Linked DNA regions of Homo sapiens: regions 1 and 2 are each linked to region 3. Evidence: fine-mapped expression QTL. A gene starts in region 3. Each other region holds a variant in brackets. All regions are shown on one strand. Distances are between the middles of the regions. Region 1 overlaps WDR70 (WD repeat domain 70). Region 2 overlaps GDNF (glial cell derived neurotrophic factor). Region 3 holds the start of GDNF (glial cell derived neurotrophic factor).

Evidence for each region. PIP is the estimated chance that this variant, and not a neighbour inherited with it, causes the effect.
Region 1: its variant is fine-mapped to the expression of GDNF in fibroblasts (GENCORD, PIP 0.91).
Region 2: its variant is fine-mapped to the expression of GDNF in tibial nerve (GTEx, PIP 0.92).

What each region holds. Positions count from the first base shown.
Region 1 is chr5:37,753,339-37,761,487 of GRCh38, reverse strand. WDR70 (WD repeat domain 70) reads right to left here. Exons shown (of 18, transcript NM_018034.4): 18 at 8,053-8,149. Among named protein-coding and RNA genes, the nearest start is that of GDNF-AS1, 82 kb to the left of the region's middle. RefSeq lists a silencer at 4,914-5,162. The variant T/A (reference allele first, on the strand shown) is at 3,536.
Region 2 is chr5:37,805,103-37,813,282 of GRCh38, reverse strand. GDNF (glial cell derived neurotrophic factor) reads left to right here. Exons shown (of 3, transcript NM_000514.4): 3 at 1-606. Among named protein-coding and RNA genes, the nearest start is that of GDNF-AS1, 31 kb to the left of the region's middle. The variant G/A (reference allele first, on the strand shown) is at 4,533.
Region 3 is chr5:37,836,026-37,844,205 of GRCh38, reverse strand. GDNF (glial cell derived neurotrophic factor) reads left to right here and starts at 4,165. Exons shown (of 3, transcript NM_000514.4): 1 at 4,165-4,699. It overlaps GDNF-AS1 (GDNF antisense RNA 1), which reads right to left and starts at 4,322. Exons shown (of 4, transcript NR_145476.1): 1 at 4,168-4,322. RefSeq lists enhancers at 4,304-5,241, 6,699-6,768, 7,120-8,058.

The sequences.
Region 1 (8,149 bases), 83 kb after region 3:
GTCAAATTACTCATGATAACCCATCGGTTATCAGTGCTATGCACCTAAATTGGAGAAACAACTGGTATTCAAGAAGACATAAGTTCAATGTTAAGGATGGACTCATGGAGAACCAGGATGACTGCCTTATCCTTCCTGAGTCCTTAAAGCTTTTGTCATTAAAAATTCTGCATTCCATGACTCATCATGGAAAAGATAAAGTAATCCAAATTAAATATATGTATCGGTGTGATGATTTCTAAATTGTCAAAATAGTTTATGACCAGTGTTTGGTTTGTCAAACCCACATTCCTGGGAAGACAATCAAAACTTCAGATATATTTTGCTACCTGATTGTCAAACCCATATTCCTAGGAAGACATTCAAAACTTCAGGTACATTCTGCTCCCTGATGGGCCATTTAAACATTTATAGAGGGATTTCATTCAATTGTCATTTTCAATGCATGTTTTCTGGTTGTATAAAAGCTTTCCCATGCAAGAGGGTTGATGTTATACACTAGCTCATTATGCAACAGTGTATTTTCACCAGGTAAAGAAATCTTTTCATGCTTCACTGACTGAAGACAATCAACACCTTCACAATCTAGAATGCAAAGATTGGATCTCCTGAGAACATCAGAGAAAGACTGCCCTTGCCATCCACACAGTAGCAAAACTTCAGGACCTTGAACCTTGGGTTCACAATCTCACAAGTCAGAGGGGTCCCTCTACACTCTTGGAACTATACACCCACTGGAATCCTTAAAGTAAAGCTAACCAGGGAAGTTTCTCCCCAGAAGAAGATGGCATCCTTTATGTAGACAGCTTTTTCCCAAGATCACAGATCAAGATTTCTCTACTATCATGAGACTCTTATCTTTCCGTTTTTCCCTCTTGCTTAGGCCTCTGCAAACAATAGAAGTGAAAAGGGGGTCTGTTGTGTGCACTCGTGGGGCATAATTTTTCTTGGGAAGGATTTTGCAGCCAGCCTTCTATATGGATAACCTTATGTCTAGACAGATGGAAGGTCCAATGTAGGTGAGAAATTTTAAGGGTACAGACATTGCCTCATAATCAGTCAGAAACAGAACATTGGTCCACTCCTCTTAACCTACATCATAGGTTAAAGAGAACATTGCCAGGAGGTCTTCACTGCTCTAGAAAGACATCATTTGTTAGGTGGTTTTTTTCATGGTTTGGAGTAAATGGGGCAATAACTAGAAATTTAGCCCTCATGATAGGCTCTATGGCAGATTCTACTGTAAAGGCTGTGGTTACACAATGGACTTTAGGTTATCTTGTGAAAGTTATGCTAAATAATATAATTGCTCTACATTACTTATTGGCTAAACAGAGAAATATCTGTGCAGCTGCTGGCACTTCTTGTTGCCCATGGAGAAACACATCACATCAGGTATTATAGAAGTTCAGTGGTAGGGGATTAACAAAGAGACTGCTTAAAGTGAGTAGATTATTTATCTAGCTCCTTCTTTATTTGATTTTAGGTGGTTTGCTTTATGGGGACACTGGCTAAGGCGCATACTGCAAACTCTTGGTATTGTCCTCCTCATAGTCATAATAGTCTCCCTGGTGTGCTGTATTCTCTCAACAGTTCTAAATGTTTGCATGCAGACATCTTTAGAATGTCAAATGATCTTTCTTCAACTGGATAAGAGCTAAAAGAAATGTGTGACCATGAGGACATCATAAACTATGAATTACGTGCTGAGACAGGAAACCCAAAATGATGGTACAATAACTGAGAGTGGGCTGGGCGCGGTGGCTCACACCTGTAATCCCAGCACTTTAGGAGGCCGAGGCAGGTGGATCATGAGGTCAGGAGTTCAAGACCAGCCTGGCCAAGATGGTGAAACCCCATCGTTACTAAAAGTACAAAAATTAGCTAGGCATGGTGGCAGGCGCCTGTAATCCCAGCTACATGGGAGACTGAGGCAGGGAATTGCTTGAACCCGGGAGCCAGAGGTTGCAGTGAGCCGAGATCATGCCACTGCACTCCAGCCTGGGTGACAGAGTGAGACTTCGTCTCAAAAAATAATTTTTTTTTTTTTTGAGATGGAGTTTCACTCTTGTTGCCCAGGCTGGAGTGCAGTGGCGTGATCTCGGCAGCTCACCGCACCTTCTGCCTCCCGGGTTCAAGCAATTCTCCTGCCTCAGCCTCCCAGGCAGCTGCGACTAGAGGCGCCTGCCACCACGCCTGACTAATTTTTAGTAGAGACAAGATTTCACTATGTTGGCCAGGCTGCTGGTCTCGAACTCCTGACCTCGTGATCCGCCCGCCTCGGCCTCCCAAAGTGCTGGGATTACAGGCGTGAGCCACCACGCCCAGCCTAAAAAAAATAAAAATTAAAAAAAAATAACTGAGAGTGACATTAAGGCCTTAAATTTGGGTCACACTCTTATATGAGAACCTGACCAGAAGGGGGTAATTTTTAAACAAAGTTATGGGAGGCCATTGTTTTGGACTGGGCTCATGCTCTAAGCCCCAACAGACCAGACCAAACTAAAATGGAGTCACTCATGCCAAATGTGACATAATCAAACTAAGACTTCAGGAAACACATAGATCCTAGAACAGGTGGGTTTTGTTTTTCTCCTGTAAACAGAAAGTTCCAGCATAAGGAGGTACCCTCTACTTTAACCCTTACAAAAAAAAAATAATAATAACCTCAGGTCTTTGTTTTCGCCTTACACAACCTACTGTTGTGCTATTTCTCAGTGGGTTTCAAGACCAAATAAGTACATTTACAATGGTGATAGGGACATCAATGACTAAAGTTTTGGTGAATCTCTCAAAATTGAGAGGGTTACCAAATGGAGGGAATGGTTAAATCCAGTTTAGCCTAAAGCTGCCTCCTTACGTATTTTAAGTTCAGCCTAAAGATTTCTCTGTACATCATGAACTATAACCTATATGGAGTTGTATACAGACTGTAGCCTACTCTTGTACAAATCACCAAGTTTTGGCCAAAGATGTCCAACTCTTCAACCTGTGTTCAAATAGGGCATTCACCAAGCTATAACCAATCCGGCTGTTTCTGTACATTTCCATTTTCTGTGCATTACTTTCCTTTTCCTGTCTATAAATCTTCTACCACATGGCTGCGCTGGAGTTCCTAAGCCTACTCTGGCTTGGGAGGCTGCACGATTAATGAATCATTCTTTGCTCAATTAAACTCTTTTAATTCAGCTAAGCTTTTTAACAGTGGACATGAATTTAAGGGAACACTGTTCAACCCAGTAAACTAGAAATATTTCCCAGAATCATCTTTGTCCTCTCCAATTGGGCACCTACTGATAATCAGGATTGCAATGGCCCTATCTAACAAATGAGTCATACTTTTTGACCCCGCATAATTCCATTTTGGGTTACTTACCAATTCTAAGAAAAGAATTCAACATAAACTATCCAAAGCAGCATTGCTTATAATAGCAAATTTGAAAATAATCTGTATTTCCAATAGGATAATAGTTTAGAATATATATGTATATAATGAGCTACTATGTAGCTACTAAGATTATATATGAGGTTTATA[T/A]TATGGAAAATTTGCATGCTTATTTTATAAGTGAAAAATACACATTGTTCATAAATATAATAATTCTATTTTTGAGAAGAGAAAATAAATCTGAAAACTATATAAAAAAGAAAAAAATTGAAGGTAATTCATCAAAATATTAGTACTGTTTGTGCTAATATTTGAATTAGCACAAATTGAATGGTTGAATAATTTTATCTTTTAAGTTGTTGCAGTTACACATTTCTGTATAATAAACAATCCCACAACTTAGTAGCTTCAAATGACAATAATCATTTATTTTGTTCATTAATCCACAGTTTGGGCAGGGCACTGTTGGGATTGGCTCATCTCTGCTTCATGTGACAAGAGCTGATGTGACTCAACTGTAACTGAAGGATCTGTTTTCCAAGATGGCTCAATAACATGTTGCTTCCAGCTGACAGCTGTGGGAGCTCTTTTGGGGTTGTTGGCTAGGGGCCTTAATTCCTCTCCAAGTGGGCCTCTCCATGGGGCTGCTTGGGCTTCCTCATAGCATGGCAGCCAGGATTCAAGAACAAGTGTCCCAAGAGAAAGAAAGGAGGTGCAATTCTCTTAAGGTCTGGGCCTGGTGACTTGAAAAACATCATTTCTGCCATGTTCTGTTGGTCTAGATGTCACCAAGCCTGCTCAGATTTAAGGGGAGAGAAGTGTCAATGAGCTTGTGGCTATTTTTTTTTTTTTTTTTTTTTTGAGACGGAGTCTCGCTCTGTTGCCCAGGCTGGAGTGCAGTGGCGCGATCTTGGCTCACTGCAAGCTCCGCCTCCCGGGTTCACGCCATTCTCCTGCCTCAGCCTCCCGAGTAGCTGGGACTACAGGCACCCGCCACGACGTCCGGCTAATTTTTTGTATTTTTATTAGAGACGGGGTTTCACCGTGTTAGCCAGGATGGTCTCGATCTCCTGACCTCGTGATCCACCCGCCTCGGCCTCCCAAAGTGCTGGGATTACAGGCGTGAGCCACCGCGCCCGGTGGCTATTTTTAATCTACCATTAAAAATAAGCATTTCCAAAAGTTTCATTAGAGTATTATTACTACTGGGGGCAGGTGAAGTATCTTTTAAAATGCTTTTATTAAAAAATGTGAAGACAGTAGTATAAACTGATAATTCAGAAAACTACTTAGAATGGCAGTTTCTCCACTCTTTGCCCTGAAAGTTCCTCCTGCAGCTACATACTTCAACACACGCACACCCCACACACAAAGATCTCCTGTCTTCAGGCACTTCTCCCATGGCCTGGTCCTCCTCTCTCTTCTTTGGTGAGGGTATTAATCAAAAATTAAAGTTACATGTGCCTTATTCCAGAAAGATGGTTTTCAAAATGTGTCTGTAAACAACCCTCTCCAACTTCTTGATCTCTTCACAATAAGTCTCACAAATGAATGAGGCATATCACCTCTGGGGGGCTACTGACCCAGGCTGTTTGTGTACCTGTACACCTTGCCTTTCTCCTGCCCCATCTGACTCACTGATTATTAAACACTATCTCATGCCTGAGATAGTCATGTTGATTCTTTAAAGCTTGTCTCAAGTTGGCTCAAGTCTCATATTTGTTCTTAGATCACATTAAGAAAAATGCTCACACTTTTTTTTCTGCCTTCATATGGCTGTGAAGCTGACCTCTTGTTTTTTTAATGGGACAGAAAGCCATAATCTTTCAAAGAATAAATACTAAGGTCTGACTACAAAGCAATATGACTGATTGCCTAAGATTAAATGGTAGACAGTGTATGAAAGGTTTTAGTTGGGTTGGTTTTATTTGGTACTGTGTGTGTGTGAATGTGTGAGAGTTATGTCCTGGTTTTCAAGTATGAATGGCCCAATTTTAGACAGTTATCCTGGGAGATGAAGGAATTACTAGCTGTACCCAGTATCCTCGAATTGAGTCTAATTTATGGATTCTCTCCACAGAAAAATGTACGAGTATAAGCAAAGCATGCTGCATAAAATTTGAGGGAGTTCACAGACATCCCGCCTAGGTTAAGAATCCCCATGCTAGACATCTCTCAGATCTTTGGTAAGTCAGGGTCACATGACCTTCCCAGTATCAAGTCCAACAGGACAGGAGGCAAGTACCTGAGGATGTCATGGTGGCTTAGAACTTGCTGTGCCCTGCCAGGAATAGCACAGATAATCCTGCCTCCTCCTTGAGCCATCACAGTTAGCTGTGAATAAATCCCCACAGAGAAGAGGTAAAGCAGCCTGGATGCAGACCAACCTTCAGTACTAACGATCCTCCTTTCCATCTGCGAGGCAGAAGCACTTCTCACACCTCATTCTTTTCCCATCCATTCTTCATCCTTGCCTGTTTCATTCCCTCCCTCTGCCAAAGATTGAATACGCCTCTTTTTAAACCCTTTCTCAGGGCTAGGGTCTAGGAATACAAATGTGAATAGAACATGGCTCCTCTAATTTATTAAACAAACTTACTGAATATTTACTGAACCCAATGCTCTTTAGTTTTTACAATCTACACCCTAGTGAGGAAACATGCATGTACACACATGGGCACACACCACTGGCCCACAAGCCATTCATGTGTATACAATCATAACGCAACATAAAAGGAGGCTATAATTGAGAGATATGTAAGCAACTATCGAAGCGGAGACTGTCTGCCTGGGAAGGTGAAATTGATTCCTGTTTCCAAAATCAAATAGGAATTTTCCAAGCAGACAAGGGTGGAAGAGGGGACAACATGTGCAAAGCCATTCAGGTGCCAAAGAACATAGTAGTGGCTGAGCCTCAGAAGCATGTGCCAGATCAGCAGGAGTTACAGCATGAAACACAGGGAAAGGCCGAATCCTGGATGTCCTCAATTGCCACATAAACGCATGAGTACTGACATAGAGCTTCTGGAAGGCTCTAGGCAAAAGAATGAAATGACAGATTTTGACTTTAGAAGGCCAACTCTGATGACAGAATGAAAGATGGGTTAGATGAGGACCTAATGAAAAACAGGAAGATCATTTGGGCAGGAGGCTCCTGAGTGGTGCTGGTGAAGGCTAAAAGAGGGTCTAAATTCTAGAGGGGTGGTAGGGAAAGAGAGGAAGGGCAAATATGAGAGATTCAGAAGACAGCATGGGAAGAAACTGGCAAATAATTAAATGGGTGGGAGTGGGGGGTGAGGGAGGAGTCATTAGGATGACTGCCAGTTCCTTCGAGCAACTAGAAATGAAGGCGACCAAATACAAGGTTGCATGGGGGAAGATAACGAGGCCTGAGGGACATGGGGAGTGTGAGGGACTGTAAGATAAATAACTGTTGATGCCCACTCTGGTGACAGGACTGCAGGTCAAATGAACACACACTATTTGTCCATTCCTGGTTCTAAACTCCTCCCTTACCAAATTTGAAATTGAAATCCGTATGTGCATGTTGCCAATCTTCTGTGGAAAAAATAATTCTTTATAAAACTCTCTACAGTGAGACAGATCCTCTTAAATATGAAAAGGCCCACTTGTGTTGTGGGTAACGATGAGAAAATCATCTTCGTGCGAAATTTGCCTTTCTCTTCCCTTACATCATAGCTGACTCCGCCAAGACCACTATGATCAAGTTTTTATTCCTCCTCCAACCCTCCACTGCAACTTTTGGCTGTACAAGACGAATACTTCCATATGGTGCAATGTTTATGTTAAGATGGGGGAAAATGTGAGATGCTTTCAGTAAATTTTATTCAAGAAGTAATAAATTTATACATTCTAAGCAGCTGGAACAAAATATTGGTCTGTAATTGATTCTGAATGAAGTGTTTTTCAAAAGGAACAGAAAACTTGGGGCTATTTGTTAATTACTGATGTTTAGAGATCTTGGGTGCTGTCATGCAGCCCTCTCTGGCTGTGACCTCAGACATATGATTTGACATGTTGAATCTCTTTTGCCTCATCTGGAAAATGGGTTTAGCAATTTTACCTACTCATAGGGTTTTTGTGAGGATTAAATCAGCTAACACAAGTAAAGGGCTTGGGATAGTACTCATTATGTAGCAGACACTCAGCAAATGTTAGTTCTTTTCTTTTTACCTATTACCTATAGTCTGAGTCACAAGAGAAGGGGAATAGGATGAGGATGGGGGTAGGAAGGAAGGACTGAGAAAGTGTATGAGAATGAAGTTTTAAGGATTTATCTATAAAAGAATGCCCACTGCCACCTCAGAATCTGTAGAGACAAGGGAGCTGTGTGAGTACAAGTGATTCTTTAAAAATATTTTTTGGGAAGCAGGTGTGGGTACGTGAAGCCTGTAAAACCAGGAGTTTTCTGATATACTTTTGGGATCATCATGCATTTTTATAATTATTGAAATCACTAGAACAAATGAGAGCAGGAGGGGAGAAGGCAAGTCCTAAAAAACCTGTCTAGAGGGGACTATTTAACATGCAAAAACTACCCCATGTCTGTGTGAAACCAATGCACAGAATTTATTCTATTGATGCATTATTATTTTGGACAAACTGCCAACTTTTGTTTTAGTTTTTTAGTCACTAAAGCACAATGATTTTTTAGAATAATTTTTAATGTCTTCTGTTTAGTCTTTACATTTACAAAGCAATTCTATACCTTTCTAATTTAATACTGATAAAAACCAAGCAAAG
Region 2 (8,180 bases), 31 kb after region 3:
ATCCCCTTCCCCCAAAATACCCAAATTCTTCATGGTTCTGCCCTTCTCTGTCCTTTCTGCTCCCCTTGCTCGCCTGGGAAATGGAGGAAAGGCCTTCCCTCTCACACTGTCTTGGGATCTTGCTGAGAATTCAGACTGCTCGAAACAGTGACAAACCCCAGCCATCCAGTCATTCGTGGAGCACAATTTGGATGTGGCCCCAGGGGCATCTGTCCCATTCAGAGAACCTTGGCAGTGCGATGGCCACTGTTCCCAGGCTTCAACCTCAGTGACCCCCCCCAACAACTCCCCATGGAGAGTCCCTGCCCAAAAAAGCTGTAGGATCCAAGGGGTGTCAATAGCTCGTTCCCGGCATCACCTACACACCACAAGCAGGTTTTAATGGAAGCAAGTTGCTCCACCAAATCCACAAAAGGGTAAAGTTTGTGATTTTTCTTTATCATTGCGATCACCATCTGATACCGTAAGGAGTGCACTTGTTTGGAAGTTCTGACTTCTCTGATCTGTCTTGGTCGTTTGTGTTATAAAACCAAAGTTCTCTACAGACTTTATTTTTGTACAATATCATTTTGTAACTTTTTACAAATAAAAACTCATTTCTATTGCTCTCTGTACTTCTGTACTTCCTTGCATGCACTGGGCCAGGCAGCCATCCACAAGTATTTCTTAGGAATCACCCCCTTCTTACCACACAGCCCACTGGATGGTCAGTGGCCTTGCCTATCAACTCCCAGCAACCAATCACCCACTCAGGAGGGACAAAACTTGCAAAATTGTTCTTATTCATTCAACAAACCCTTATGGTGTGCCTACACTGTGCCAGGCACTGTTCCTGGCACCAGGGCTCTAATGGTGACCAAAGCAAAAACCGCTGTCCTCCTGGAGTTATTTTATTTGCGGGGAGACAGACAACATTCAAAAAAGTAAAATATGTAGTGATCCCTGTGTTGAGAAACGCTAAAAGAATACAAACAGGATCCTATAATATAGACACTAACAGGGGAGCTTGCTTTAATTAGAAATGACTTTAAGACCGAAGTTAAGAAACAGTGCCAACAGATCAGGAGCGTCCCAGGCAGAAGAAGCAGCTTGTATGAAACTGAGTCACGTCACAGACTGCCTTGTGACTATCAAAAGGCGGCCTTGCATGGTGCTCTATGGCTCTTCTGCATGGCCCCAGCCTAGGCTGCCCCATGGATGGCATTTGTGCTGCACTAGCCTTTGCCTGAAATGCCCCCTCTTCCCGATGCACGCCGTCCCTGCGTGGAGACTTGGTGGAGTCACGGGTACCAACCTGTGGGTTCAGGCATTCAGAGTCCTTCTGCCAGGACTGGCTGGAAGAGGCTCCAGGGTGGTGCTGAGGCCAGCTGCGTTTTCTCCAAGCCAAAATTCCAGTCCAAAGTCAGTGACTTGGAGCGGGAACATAAGATGGTAAAACTCCTGCTTACCTCCTCTCCCTTTTTAGAGCTATTTTCCCAAAGTGTGTCCAGGATTACTTACCCAGTGAGATGCTCCTCAAATTTAAAAAAAAAAAAAGGGAGGAGGACAGGATGGTTCTCTGATCAAATAACTTTGGAAAATACTGAGTTAAATAGCATCAACCCATGCTTTAAGGTTTAAAATATAACTGTAGAGCTTATCAGAGCCTTTATTGGGCCAATGATTGTTTCACAGTCCAGGGGAGGGTGTCGTGTGCAGAATTCCCCATGTAGACGTGACCATGGATCCATGGGTTCATTGTTTTGTCTTCTTTCTCATCACACCTGGTGACCACCCTGGAAACTATTTTGGGCCATCTTGCGTGTTCCTGTGAGTTTCATGGTGAGTCACGAGCTGTACTAGAGATTAATAAGAGGCAGAAACTACTGGGCAGCTCCCTACTGGGAGGGCACCCCTCCCCAAACACACAACACACACACACACACACACACACACACACACACACACACACACACACGGTATTTGGACCCTGGTTTCTTGCTCAGCATGAATAACAAAACGATTAACCAGTGGTCAACTTTAGAAACTTCCTTAACCAAGAAAAGGAGAATGTGCTGAGAGCTGGGAAGTCCCCAGCAGCCTGGGGGCGCCTGCACCTTGCTCCCCCGTCCTTCTTGGGCTGGTGCTTTGCTGGTCTGCAGCCCTGAGTGCGCGCCACCCCTCACTGCGATCCCCAGAGGGAAGGCCATGCTGTTGGCCTCCAGCTCTGAAATCCGCGCTGCAGAGAAGGGTGGAAGAGCACTGGGTGAGGAGCTTGGATACTGGTCCCGACCGCCTTATGTGGCTTGTGCCCATGAGATCATCTCAGGCCAACTTTCTGCTGTGTTAAGGAGGCACTCTGGGGGACCGTGAGTGTGGAGTGAAGTAGGTTAAAGTGAACTTTTAAAAGAATCAATCCATTCCCGAGATAGAGGTGGAAAATCAGAATTTCCTGAACCTACGTCTGAAAAACAAAGACCTTCCCTTCGAACACAAGATCCTCCGTTGGCCACGGCTGATGTACTAGCTGACACCAGAATCCCTTGGGAGGGGGAATCCTGTTGCCTCCACTCATAGTCCACCCAAGGAGGGGGCGTGGGTTTTAGCCGAGGGTCTATGGCTTTTTTCCATCAGGTAATGAAAAAGCCCCAAGGGTCTTCTTGGGACACACGTTTGTTAACGGAAGCGCTGCTGGAATCCCAGGCAATAGTTAACTCATCTTTAGTCTCAGCCTCACAACATCCTGAATGAAATGAAAACCAAATGCTGCCAAGTCATCCCTGAAAACAGACAGTTGGGGAAACGAAGGGCAAGCACACATTTACTCATATTTACTCATCTAAGACAAGGAATACACTGTCACGTCCCTGGCCACGGCAGCTGAGTGGGATGAAGATGGGACTGCAGCTGCAGGGAGGAGTCCGTGATACCCCGAAAGCGAGACGTGCAGGGAGAGGTGTGGAGAGAGCGCTAAAATGCCTCAGAGAGAGCCGCAGGTGGGATAAAGAGCCGGAAGGAAAACAAATCAGAAACAGCTACAGATTAGTGTTGCCAGAGAAAATACAGGACACCTAGTTAAATCTGAATTTCAGATAAGCACGCACAATTTCTTAGTACAAGCATGTCTCATGCAACATGTGGGACATGAGACATGTGGAACATACTCATGCCTGTTATAACAAATAATATATATTTGTAATTTGTCTGAAGTTCAAATCCAAGTGGGCATGCTGTATTTTAATTTGCTAAATTTGGTGAAAGTTACATTGGAGCTGGACCTTGCAAGTGAGTAGGAATCTGTCACGTGGGCCAGGTCAACACAGGCTGGGATGGACGACAGACACTCCAAGCAGGAGGAACAGTGCGACCCAAAGTGTCAAAAGGGCAGGGTGGTGGGCTCAGAGTGGGCTAAGCTATTAGACACAGCAAACACAGTGCCTAGGGGCCCAAAAACTTTTTAAACATTTTTCAAATCAAAAGAAAAATAAATATAACAATAATGCATATATAATAATTAACCCAGCTTAGATTGTACTTGTCTATAGCAATGCAGTTATATATTTTAATGGAGAAGGGGCCCACAGAGGCAAAAAAGCCCAGAGCCCATGAAGAGTCATCATGCAGCCCTGGGTGCACTGCTAACAGCAAATTTTCTGTGTCCTCTGCTTCCAGTTTCCTTCTAGTTTTCTCTTTTTCATGAATTATTAAAGCCAACTTTGTCCTTAAAAAAAAAAAATCCCAGCACTTTGGGAGACCGAGGCAGATGGATCACCTGAGGTCAGGAGTTTAAGACCAGCCTGGCCAACATGGTGAAACCTCATCTCTACTAAAAATACAAAAATTAGCCAGGCATAGTGGCGCACATCTGTAGTCCCAGCCACTCAGGAGGCTGAGGCACAAGAATCGCTTGAACCCAGGAGGCGGAGGTTGCAGTGAGCCGAGATAGTGCTACCGCACTCCAGCCTGGGTGACAGAGTGAGATGGAAAAACAACCCTTCTTTCCATTCTTCAAGTTAGATTGTTTTCTCAAGATATTTGCATTTACTTTCTACTTAGGGAAGCATAAACTTAAGGCCATGCCATTGATATTCCAATGCTCATTCATGATTTCTGAGAAGCGACAATATGAATCAGTGGCCCAAGGGCATGGCAACAGAGGGAAGAGCACGTCAGATGGAAAGTGGACGGGGTGGGCAGACCGTGAGAGGGATGGAGAGAAGACTTCAGCCTCCAGGAAACCAGAGAACCATAGAGCTGAGCAATGGTGAAGAAGGATGAGGTTTCAGAACATGTGGAATCGATTGTTTTAACTTGGGAAACTCTTTAAAGTGGTACATGTAGGGGATTTTAACCCACTCCCTGCTCACCTGCTCCGGGTCTGGGTCTCATTCATTTAATTAATTTCTGAGAAGCTATCTCCTGCCAGGGGAGAATGTAAAGATACAGAGACAATGCTGCAAGGGGCTCCCAGATTAGAGGGACAGAAATGGAGCATAAGAACGTGGGGAGGGGCAGCGATGAAGACGTGCAGTGAAGGGTGTCATGGAGCTCCC[G/A]GGAGGGACAAGGAATCCTGCTGACCCTGGGGAGCAGGGGAGGCGGGTGGGGAGGTCGGGGCGGGGTGATGCTATCAGGGACTACCTCCTGGAAGTGGCTGCCTAAACTATTAAAGGATGAGTAGGAATTTCCCAGAGAGGGCTTGAGGGAGGGGAAGGCATTCCAGGCTGAAGGGACACTGAGAGCTCAGCCGTGACACCCAGACACAGCCTGGGGTGCTGTTGGCTTGGGAAGGTGGAGATGGGGAGAGGACAGAGCTCTGGATGGCAGGGCGGCTAAGCTTCACTGGGAGGAATGAGAGGGGAGAGAGGCCTCCCATGGAGAAAGGCAGCCATGAGGTGGGGGACCAGGGAGCTCTGCTCTGCCAGGCTCCAAGCTCCTTGGGAAAAGGATCACTTTGGATCTTCACATCCACCCCCCCCTTTCAGACCCACCGCCTCTGCAGCCCCTCTCGAGCCCATGCTTTCAAGGCCTTGTCTGCACTGATCTCATTCTCCTACAGACTGGCCTACCAGGAACATTTGCTTCCCACAGGAGACTCAGTAGGACTGCAAGGCTGTTTCCCAAGCTGCAAGCGTTTCCCAAGCTGCCCGGTGGAACCCTAGGAAGCATCTGTGTAGGCTGGAATTCCTTGATCTTAAACATGGGAGAAATGTCACATACTTCAGTCCCCTCTCACGGAGCAGCAACGACATCACACATTCCATATGAAGCAAGGATCTGAGAAGGCCTGTGGAGGGAAGCCCTGTTTAATCTTGTCTAACCCAGCATCTCCCAATCTTATTTGACCAAGGAGCACCTGTTGGCATCTAACAGAAGTGTTCTGCTGGACAAAATGTGGAAAATGCTATTCTAGAGCCAAAGGAATGAATCTGTAACGGAACAATTACACACATCAGAATTCTTTCTGGCCAGGGGGATCTTCCCAACCCACCATTTGTGGAAAGGCACACTTGGCCAGAAGGACTCGACAAATGGCCAAGTTCTCTTTCACACATCATTTCTTTCACACATGGCACATCAGACTGGGCCAGTGAGCATTAAACACAGGCATGTTCACATTTCTTTTTTTTAAACATTTTTTAATTCTTAATTTTTGTGGGTATATAGTAAGTGTATATATTTATAAGGTAGAGATTCTTTGATACAGGCACACGATGTGTAATAATCACATCATAGGGTATCCATCCCCTCAAGCATTTATCCTTTGTGTTACAAACATTCTAATTATACTCTTTCAGTTATTTTTAAATGTACAATTAAATTATTATTGACTATAATCACCCTATTGTGCTATCAAATACTAGGTCTTATTCATCCTTTCTAACTACTTTTCATACCCATTAACCATCTCCACATCTCTCCCACCATGTTCTCATTTCCCCCTGAGCTTGAGCTGAGATGACCAACCCTCCTCCCTCAGCCTCACTCTCCACCATCCTCTACCCTCACTCCACCTGGCTGACCCTGCCATGGCACAGTTGTGGTCATCATTAGTGCAGTTCACTTCACAATTACAGATCCTGTCCATTTCTCGGCACATAGTAAGATTGTATGTTTCAGTTCCCTTGTGGTTGACTGAGGCCAATGATTGGCCAAAGAGCATGAGCAGAAGTGACCAGTGAAATGTGACATTCTGAGCCTTGTGTTTAGTGGACATTATGAGATCCTCCAAAGCCTCTTTCTTTTCCTCTGAGACAGCAGCTGGCAATATTCAAGATGGCGGCAGTTCTGTCTACTTCAAGTGCTGATGGTAAACAGAGCCCCTCTGCCAACCCACAACAGGCACAGCACAACGTGGTAATTGAGGAATAAACCTTTGTTATTTTGAGCCACTGAGATTTGGAGGTTGTTTGTTACTGCAGCCTATATTAGCCTATTCTGACAGGCACAAGCTTCTATTGTGAAGAGGTGCATTATGGGCCATGAAGAGAGCAGTCCCGTAGAGATGGGGAAAAAAGCAAGCAGAGAGGCCCAAAATGATGGGGGAGCGGGAAGAAATAAAGCTGAAAAGGCAGCCAAGATCACGTAGAGTCTTTCCGGCCGTGGTGGCAATTTAGGATTTCATTCTGAATCAGACAGGAAGCCATCCGAAGGTTTTAAGACAAAGGGAGACAGGATCTGGGTGTGTTTTTAAAGGATTATTCTAGCTGCTTTGTTGAGGACAGACTGTACAGGGGCAAAAGCAGAAGCATGGAGACTAGCTAGGAGGCCCAAGTGAGAATCCATGTGGGTGATAACGGTAACTTGGACTGGGGTGTAGCGATAGCAGTGCTGACACAGTGTACCCAAAGATCAGGCATAAGGAGGACAGGAGAGAAGAAGAGAAAATGCATCATCAGAACAGCACCGAGGCTGACGCCCGTGCAGTGATATCTCTACGAGGTGAAATAGGGAGGGTTGGTGTCTCATTCTGGATGTTCTCTGCTGGGAAGGTAAGAAAACAGACCCTCTCTCCTGACATCCTAACTCAGGGTAAGGCAGGAACCAGTGCAGGGCGAGGATCTGAGGGAGCCTGCCAGCCCGAGGTCTGGAATGCCATTTAAAGTGCATGCCCGGTGCGTTGGCTCACATTCCGGGATGAATCTGCCACCGCTCCCTCTGACAATGTTTAGCATGAAATAAAAAGTATGGCTTTCAAATGATACCACGAGGAAGATTCTTGAGCAAATATGGCCAAAGTTTCTCTGCAGAATGTTCTCGGAGGCTGGGATTCCAACCACCTCCAGCCTTCTTTTTCCACCCAGTCCTTCCCAGTCCTGCAGTAAGGTTTGACCAGACCACGGCATTGGCCTCCTCACAGGGTTACCTGATCTTGCTGCCAATCAAATCACTCAGACTGCCAATCAGAACCTCCACAATCTGTTCCAAACAAAACTTTTCTCTAGTTCTTGTTTGGTTTTTGTCCCCGAAATCTTCCTTTTACACCAAAACTCAACCCTTCAGTCACTGTGGATGTCCTACAGAACTTCAAAATACATGTTGAGCTTGTGGCAATTTCTCAGTGTTGTACCCTTGCCCCAGCCATTTTCTCTGCTGGAAATACTGTCCCTCACATCTTCAATGCTCCAAATACTCCCGTGGCGGTATTTATCACTCACTTAACTGTGATTCTATAGCCAAAGTGCTTTATGTGTGGGTCAGGCTGATGACATGAGAACTTTTTCTTTTAGATTTTTTTTGTAGATATGTAAATAAGTTATGCACCGATCTTATGATCTCTGCTAAGTTGAGGGGCTCCTTGAGTGCAGGAGCAGGAGCCATGTCTGGCTCACCTTTAAATCCTGAAGAGCCCTGAGCACCTGCCTCCTCATTTGACCAAGGAGCGCCTGTTGGCATCTAACGGAAGTGTTCTGCTGGACAAAATGTGGAAAATGCTATTCTAGAGCCAAAGGAATGAATCTCTAATGGAAGAATTAGGTAGCAGATGCTCAGAAAGCATCTGTATTTGTCAGGACTTTGGCTTACAGCAGCAGTCTCCAAACTTTTTAGCACCAGGGACTGGTTTCATGGAAGACAATTTTTCCATGGACCAGTACTGGTCTGCGGCCTGACCACTGGGAATCCCTGGCTTACAGGTAACAGAAACTCAACTCAAAGTGCCTGAGACAATGAAAGGAAATTGATTGGTTTGTGTAATGGAAAAG
Region 3 (8,180 bases):
ATCACGTCTACAGGCTGCAGCCCTACAGGGCCACAGAGGCTGAGCAAGAATGTGGCAGTACCTAGCATCCAGTCTCCTCCAGCGACCCTTTCAGCCAGCCTGGAATGTCCCCTCACCCCCACCTCCTCTCTGCTTACTTACTCCAATCAAGGGCTAGTTTGAGTTCCATAACCTTATAATACCCTGTATTATTTTTCATCATTTTATGGTTGTGTTTTCTCTTCCCAAGGACTGTAAGATCCTTGGGCACAAATTGCACCGATCATTTAGACAACTTTCAGTTAGAGACTCACAAGAAATCCCAGTGAAGAGGACGATAGCGATGAAATAGGAAATTAGCAGGGCTTCGAACCTTTTTTCTCAAAGAGGAGATGGGAGGCTTGAACAATGTTTGTTCTCTCTGATTCTCAGGCAGGGCTTCCTAGATAAAAAGCTGAGATCTGGGGACAATGTGAGAATCCTTAGCAGTATGTTGCTGTTGTTGCTTTATCAGAGGATGTTCTGCCTATTGAGAGCAGAGTCGGTGCTGCAAATTCTTCCCTTCTGGACTTCGCTGAGGAACAGCTTCAAATCAAACTATTCCGTTTCCTTGAGAACAGAGAAGCTGGAGCCTCGGAGCTGTGGGGCTCCCTACTTTCAGCTTATGGGGGCGTGAGACTGTGACATCAGGCCATCCCCTTGTTCCCAAGACACCAAATGTTTGCTTCCCATCTTAACTCTATTCAAGGCAGTCACTTCAGAAGGAACTTTTGCTGAATTCATCTGTATGCTGTAGCCATGTAAATAAATGTTCTTTCAAAATTAGAAATATTTGCTTTAATTCTAAATTAAATTTAACATTTTCCTTTATATTACTGTTTTAAGATACTTTGTATTTTGAAAGGAATTTAATGTTTTGGAAGAGTCTTAGTCTTAGAACCTATCAAAATAGGGCTTCTTCATTTTGCTTTCAAAAAGAATCATAAGATGATTGCAACCACTGGGAAAAGATAAAGCCAATTCACTAACCTGGGAGCATCTGAAAAATCAACTCCTGAGCTCCACCCTTCAAGAGATTCTGATTTAATTGCCCTGAACAAGGCCTAGGTCTGGGACTTTTTTTTTTTTTTTTTTTTGAGACAGAGTCCCACTGTGTCACCCAGGCTGGAGTACAGTGGTGCAATCACTACTCACTGTAATCTCCACCTCTCAAGTTCAAGCAATTCTCATGCCTCAACCTCCCAAGTAGCTGGGATTACAGGTGCCCACCACCACAACCAGCTAATTTTTCTATTTTTAGTAGAGACTGGGTTTCGCCATGTTGGCCAGGCTGATCTCAAACTCCTGACCCCAAGTGATCCACCCACCTCAGCCTCCCAAAGTGCTGGGATTACGGGTGTGAGCCACCACCACTTCCAGCCTACAGGTCTGGGTATTTTTTGAAATCTCCCCAGTGTTTCACTGGCCATGTGAAAATCAGACTCCAGGACATGAGTCTCATATATACTTCTGTTGGAGTATTTATCACTTTATACCATCAATACTCATGAGCATATCTCCCTCTCTGTAGTGGTAGTTTCTGAAGGGCTGGGAGAGGACTGTCAAAACCCAAAGTGCCTACCATTAACCCACCTCCTTCTGAGGGACCATCCTCTGTGGAGGGAATGTGGGGAGGAACTCTAGGAAGTATCTCAAGCAAAGGTGGCCAGGCTGTGTACTCTGTGATGCCAACAACCTGGACATGAATGATTGGCCCAGGATAGGCACCTGCCCCCAGGTCTGCGGATATACAGGGTGTTTTGCAACCTGTAAGGAGACTGATACAAAGGCTCAGTCCAACTCTCACCCCTGGTGAATCCCTAGCAGGACAAACTAGATCCTTTCACTAAAGGAGTTTAAATGTGAGATCAACTGAGAGCTGAGCAGTTGGTAGCAGGAGCAGAAGCCAAAGGACACCCAGGGGAAAACAGCGAGAGAGGAGCTGAATCACCTTGGCGGCTAAGCCGTTAGTGGGGATCGGCAGATGCCTGCTGCTGAGGGGGCAGCGAGATAACCCAGTCACAGAGCTGTATCCTGAATGACCTTCCAGTTCCTGAACTTCAATCCAGTTTTCATGAGGCCTGGCTGGGTGGCCTTTCCGGAAGGCTTTTCGGAGACACGTGGCGGAATGGTGGAGATTCCGGTCAGCCTTCCTTCCACAGTAAATTCCCATTACTGAGGGTAAACCTCAGTGGTATCTGTTCCTTGCAACCCCCGCCCCCCGCCCAAAAAAAAAGCCCAATCAGCACAATGCCCAGGGCCTAGCACTTTGCCTGGCACACAGCAAGTGCTAGATATTTGCAGGTGCTTGGACGGGCTGATCATCCCCAGCAAAAAGCCCTCTAAAAATAAAGAAATCATTCAGAGTAAGAACATTGATGAGGGTCGTCTTCAAATTCCAAAAACAATGCTAAACGGCAATAAATATATTAAGCTTATTCTGCCCTCTAATTTCTGAATCTAACTACATTTCTACCATAAATCTATCAAAGAGGGAAATGTCATTTTCTGCAGAACTCCAGAGAGCATCCTAATTTCAGCTAAGGTATGTTTTGATGACTCGATTTTCACTTCGCTTAATCTTAAATCACAGCAACGTTAGTAAGAACAATTTTCCTCCCACACTCGCTTCACTGACAAACCTGCAAAGTAGCTGATCTTTGACTTTTAAGAAGTTTAATAATACATGATCTTCCCCCCACACTGCCACACGCATTTCCCCTGCCTATTGTCTGTATCAGCTACTTGAAGAACACATACTCCCCAACAACCGGATGAGTCATAAAATAAGAGGTACATGGACGTAAACTGAGCCTGTTTACACTTTCCCTGGCCCCAGCTAATAAAATAAAAGAGGTCCCACTGAATTCAGGTCCAATGGCTTCCGGAAAACAGGTTTCTGCTTAGCAAAGACATGCCCTATTTAGTACATTATTTTAGAGGTACAGCCAATTCCATGCCCCATGTGAATGAAATGTATTTATGGTTATAGCCATGCACAGGGTGTGTAAGGACTTGCCCTCCTCCTGTCCTCTACAAAAGAAGGCTCAGGCAGCTTCTGGTGGTGAACTAACCAACAAAAGGAATGCCCAGAAGGTCTCACCTCTCCCATCCACAGAGCTCTGGAATGGGGGCCGGGCCCCTGATCGCTGGAAACTCAGCATCCAAGTGGGCGCTTGCTGAAGTTTCCCATCTGCATTTTCGAAAATCTGGATAAAAGCAGGTTTAGCTCAACCTCCCCTAACCCGTTCCTGATAAAGTGATCTTACGCCTCTGGAATTGGGATTTTGAATGTATGTGCCTGCCCCATGTCTGGTATTAGATTACAACAGCATGAAAATGGAGCCTAGGACTGAGGAGCCGGCCAGCCTCAGAAGCCTTCTTCATTGCCTGCCATGTAATACATGATATGCAAAGCCTCTGACTTCAGCCAGCAGATATTTGGAGACCGTGTTGGCCTTAGCATGGGGACTAAACTAATGTGTGTTTAGGTCAGAAAGCGAATCAGAAAAGCCACTGGAGGGCACGTCACGGAGTGAGAGCCCTATAAATTCATCCCCACTCGCAGCGTCCCCTGGCAAATACTCGGCTTCCCTCACCCGGCCGCTCCGCACCTCTCCTTCTCGGTGCTAGAACTCCGGCCGGCAGCTCCTTTTCTCGCCACTGCCTCCTGCCCTGCGGAGAAGCGAGAGGGCGAGACACCCGAGCGGGAAGGCCGGCCTTCGACAGGCGCGAGGAAAGCCCGGCGCTGCCCTGCACCGGCAGAGCGCCACCCTCCCAGTGCGGCGCGCGGGGGCAAAGCCCGGCGCGGGCGCCGCGGTCAAGTTCGGATTGCCCCTTTCGGCTGGCCCGCGCAGAGCGCCGCACATTCCTCTCGATTTTTGATCCACCCGGAGAGGAGAAGGCGCTAGCCCCGCGGCGTCTCCGCGCTCTCAGCGCTCTCCCTGCAGCCCAGGGAGGGGCGCCTCGCGTCGCCCACTCGCACCCCGGCCCCCCGCCTCGGGAACTCCAGGGCCTCCTCGCTGCTCTCCTCTCCTCCCCCACCGCCAGGCCCAGCCGACGCCTCCCGACCCCTCCCTCCCGGGGCCCCGCGCCTCCCCTCCCCCACCCCGGACCCCGGACCCCCAGCCCGGGCTCTAGAAGACCAGCCTGCGCTCCTGGCGCCCTCATGTCTTCACGGGACTCCCCGCGCCGGTTGACGTGGTGTCTCGTTCGGATCTCCAGGCAAGACCTCAGCTCCGGCAGCAGCATCAGACAAACCAGTCTCGTGCTCCCAGGCAGTGCGCCCAGAGGAGGCGCAGAGCGCGGCAGCTGCCGCTGAGCCGCCCGCAGCGCCCCGGGCCCGCGCAGCCCCAGCCAAGAGCGCGACGCGCGCAGCCCTGTCAGCCCCCCACCCAAAGCAGCGGCGGCTGCTCGGACCTCGGCTTCTGGGGGTGCGGGGGCCCGGCGGGAGAGTTGCCGGCAGCCCTCGCCCTGTTGGCGGCGGCGGCGGCGGGAGTCTTGGCCGCCGCCTCCAGCGCGCCCTTGCTGCCCCGCGCGACCCCAGGATTGCGAACTCTTGCCCCTGACCTGTTGGGCGGGGCTCCGCGCTCCAGCCATCAGCCCGGATGGGTCTCCTGGCTGGGACTTGGGGCACCTGGAGTTAATGTCCAACCTAGGGTCTGCGGAGACCCGATCCGAGGTAAGTGAGGGAGCGGGCCGGGGAGCAGGGAGCGGGTGGTGCCTGCGTCGCGGGTGGGTGCGGCCGGCTGAAGGGCGCCCTAGTCAGAGGGGTGCGTCTGGACCCCAGAGCAAACGGTGAGAGTAGAAAGTGGAAAGACTAGAGGGAACCTAAGCTATGCGAGGAGAGAGAAAAGTAGAACCGGAGAGAGGCCGGCCTTTCGGAGGGGCATGTTGCCTTTTCCACGTGGGCAAAGATCTGTGGAGCCCCAGATGCGCCTGGACCCGGAATGCCCAAGAGGGGCAGTTTCCTTCCCCGACTCGGCCAGGTGCTCTTCCGTCAAGTCACAGAACGATTCAGGGCTTGGGTCATCTTCGAACCCACCGCCGTCGAAATGTGTCCTCTCTGGACGTGCAGAGATACTATCATTGCCAAGAGTGCAACTTACTATTGAGCTTGTTTTGATCTGTGCCAAGGAAAAGCGCAGGCCGGGGGAGGGGCTGCTGCAAAGGTGCTGAGAACCTAAAAATGGAGGGCTCACCTCCTCCGGGCGAGGTCTGGCAAAGCTACATTCCTCACCCGGTTGCCTGCACGTTCCTAACGCCCTCCACCCCAACTAACCATCCCCGTCGAGGTTAGGAGAGGGGCTTTCTTGCCAGTCCTGGATTCAAATCTCTGTCTCGAACGTATTCTTGAGACTCCACTAGGCCATTGAGGTTATTATTTTAATGACCCCTTTTTCTCCTGTACTCTGTGCCGCCTTCCAAAAACACCCCACCACCACTGCCACTACTTTACACCACCTCGAGGCTAATTCCGCACTGGTGGTTTGTTTCCTGCCCCAACGAAGAAAAACGAACCCTCTTCGGGCTGGAAACGGACTTTCGCGGGTTCCCGCCAGCTTCCTGGGGCCCAGCTAGTTTCGGCTTTGGTAGAATCCGCCGCCAGGACCCATGTGCGCGCCCCCGGGGGGCTTACCCATCCCAGAGCTCGCGACCCTTCTGCTCATAGGCGGGGACAAAGGCAACTCTTCCGGCCCCTGCTGCGGAGATGTTAGAACGCGCTCGACTCTTGCTCAGTGTTTGGAATATATGCTTAGGTATTTCAAGGAAGAGATGTTTCTTCCAACCTCATTCACGCACCCAGTCCCGCAAAGCCGTCAAAGCCGGCCTCGACCAAACTCGTACTGTTTCGCTGCGCCTTCGCTTTGTCAGGGAAGGTGGCGCCTTTTCAACAAGTAACAAGTGTCCGATCTCTGGGAAGTCCGCCGTGTCCCTAGCCCTTTCCCGCTAGCAATTCGGGTGCTCTCGGGCCTGGAACCTGGCCCTTTAAACAGACCGCTTTCCCAGTTTGCCTGCGAGAAGTGTCCCAAATTCTTTTTCCTTCCCTCATCTTGGGCCCCGCAGTTATGGGGGGTTGAGGGGAGAATAAGTCCTCTGTCAGTCAAGGACACGAAGCATAGTTAAGAAAAGCAATAGATCTTCCAGCAATTTCTGTCTCTACCTCCCCCCGCCAAAAAAAAAAAAAAAAAAACCGAGTTTATAGCAAACCCGTCTCCCCGCCCCACCGCCTCCTTTTTCTCTCTCTGAGACCTGGATCTTGAAGGCAAAGCCCAAACAAACCTCCCAGCCTGCCAGGCACAAGAAGGTGCGGGGGCACTGACGGCGGGAGCGCTGCCTCCTGCGAATCTGTCACGGTGACGCGTGGAAGGGGTGAGGGATGGTCTGAAAGCAGGTTGCCAAGAAACCCGCTCAGGTGAAGTGGGGAGAGGAAAACCAGCGAGAATGGAGGGGTGGGAGCCTGAAAAGCAGAGATGCCAGTAAGGACCTCCACAGGTTCCCGGGCTAATGGGATTTCGGGAGGCTCGTAGAGGGAGTGGTGGTTCTCCGGTTTTATAACTAAAATGATAACACAGCCTCCGGGCCGCGTGGGCGCGACACGGCTCAGACGGTTTCTGGTGCCCCCTGCTGCCGGGAACTCAGAAGTGCCTCGCGGCGAGCGGCTGCTTCTGCGAGCACTTCTGTGGCTTTCCTGGGCGTCCTTGCCTCCCCAGGCCTGGGGACCCACAGGTGCCGGCGCCCACGGCCTGCTGCTTTTGCCCTGCCGGGACGTGGTGGTCCCGGACCCAGAAGGGGACCAGCTTGCCAGGCACGAGAAATGGTGCGCGGTCACCTGGCAGAGCAGAGCCCCCGTCACTTGAGGAGCAGAGCTTGGTTCTCGCACGTGGCGGCGCGTAAAGCAGTTTGCACCGCGGGCAAAGGCCCATGGTTGAGGAGAAGCGCGTCGGGCAGATGTAGATGTGTTTTGGGAAAGCGATAGAGAGACAAACTGAGAAGCCGAGGGGTGGAGCCCACACGGACTCTAAGAAAAACGTCCTAGTAGACGCTGTGTGTGCCGAGTCCCCCAACCTCCCCCCTTTTCCCCCGCCCAGCAAATACCGAGAACGAAAGAGCCCCTCGGACTGGAGCCGGTCCCGGCGGCGCTCAGAGGGAAGAATGCGCCCTCCCTGTCCCGGGGGAAGAGGGGAGCTCGATCCGGGCGCTGGCGGCGCTCGGCCGAGGGCGGGAACCGCAGCCGGGAGCCTCCTCTGGCGACGCGGGGAGTTTTCCACTGTGTAGTCTTTTGCCAGCTTCGCCACACTTCTAATTGAGGATCTCCACGTCCAATTTAAAAAGCCCTCCGTCGGCCAAGCAGGAAAAAAGGGAAAACCCTCTTAAGACGGAAGGGAAATCTAGTGCCTCTGTGGCTTCCTGCTGGCGGGCACCGCGATTTGGAATGGCGCATTAACCCCGCGCCTCCATGCTCCTCCGGTCGGACCGCCAGCCATTTCGCACGCACCCGGGAGCTGGCACCGGCGGGGGGCTTGAGGGGGGAAGCTCGCGTTCCCCAGGTCCTAGCTGCCAAAGTACCTTTCTGGGCTCATTTTGCATGGCCTGGTGCAGTTTTCCTGTGTCTGCACATCGCGACCCAGAACCTAGCTTTTTCCCGAGTTTGCAAACCAGCCCGCGAGGCAAGAGGCGCTCGGTGCTGCAGGTCACTAGGAGTTTCTAGTCCCTACACCCTCTCGAGCCCAACAGCTGCATAGCGAACAAACAGACGCTCAGGAGATGTAAAATGCATTAGTCTCTGCAGAGGTGGGAGGTGGCGGCCGAATTAAAGGCTTCCCCGGGTTGCCTGCACCGGGACAGGGAGTGGGGTTCCGGGTAGAGATGAGGACTGGAACCCTGGAATGGAGGCGGGGGTGCCTGTGAACTAATGGCTAGGAAAGGCACTGAGGTTTTTGCATTAACCTGGGTTTTGCATTTCCCTCCCGCATGGGAAAAAAAAAATCGAGTTTTTCCTAAGAACCGTTTTATGGAGCCGGTCGAGGGGATAGGATAATCGACTGCACGAATCTCGCAGATTCCGCTTGAGGAGATTCTCTCTAGGTCACTAGTGCCCTGGAGACGAACCCTGGGATTAGGAAGGCACTGGATAACACTGCACCCCAAGATGCCTCGGT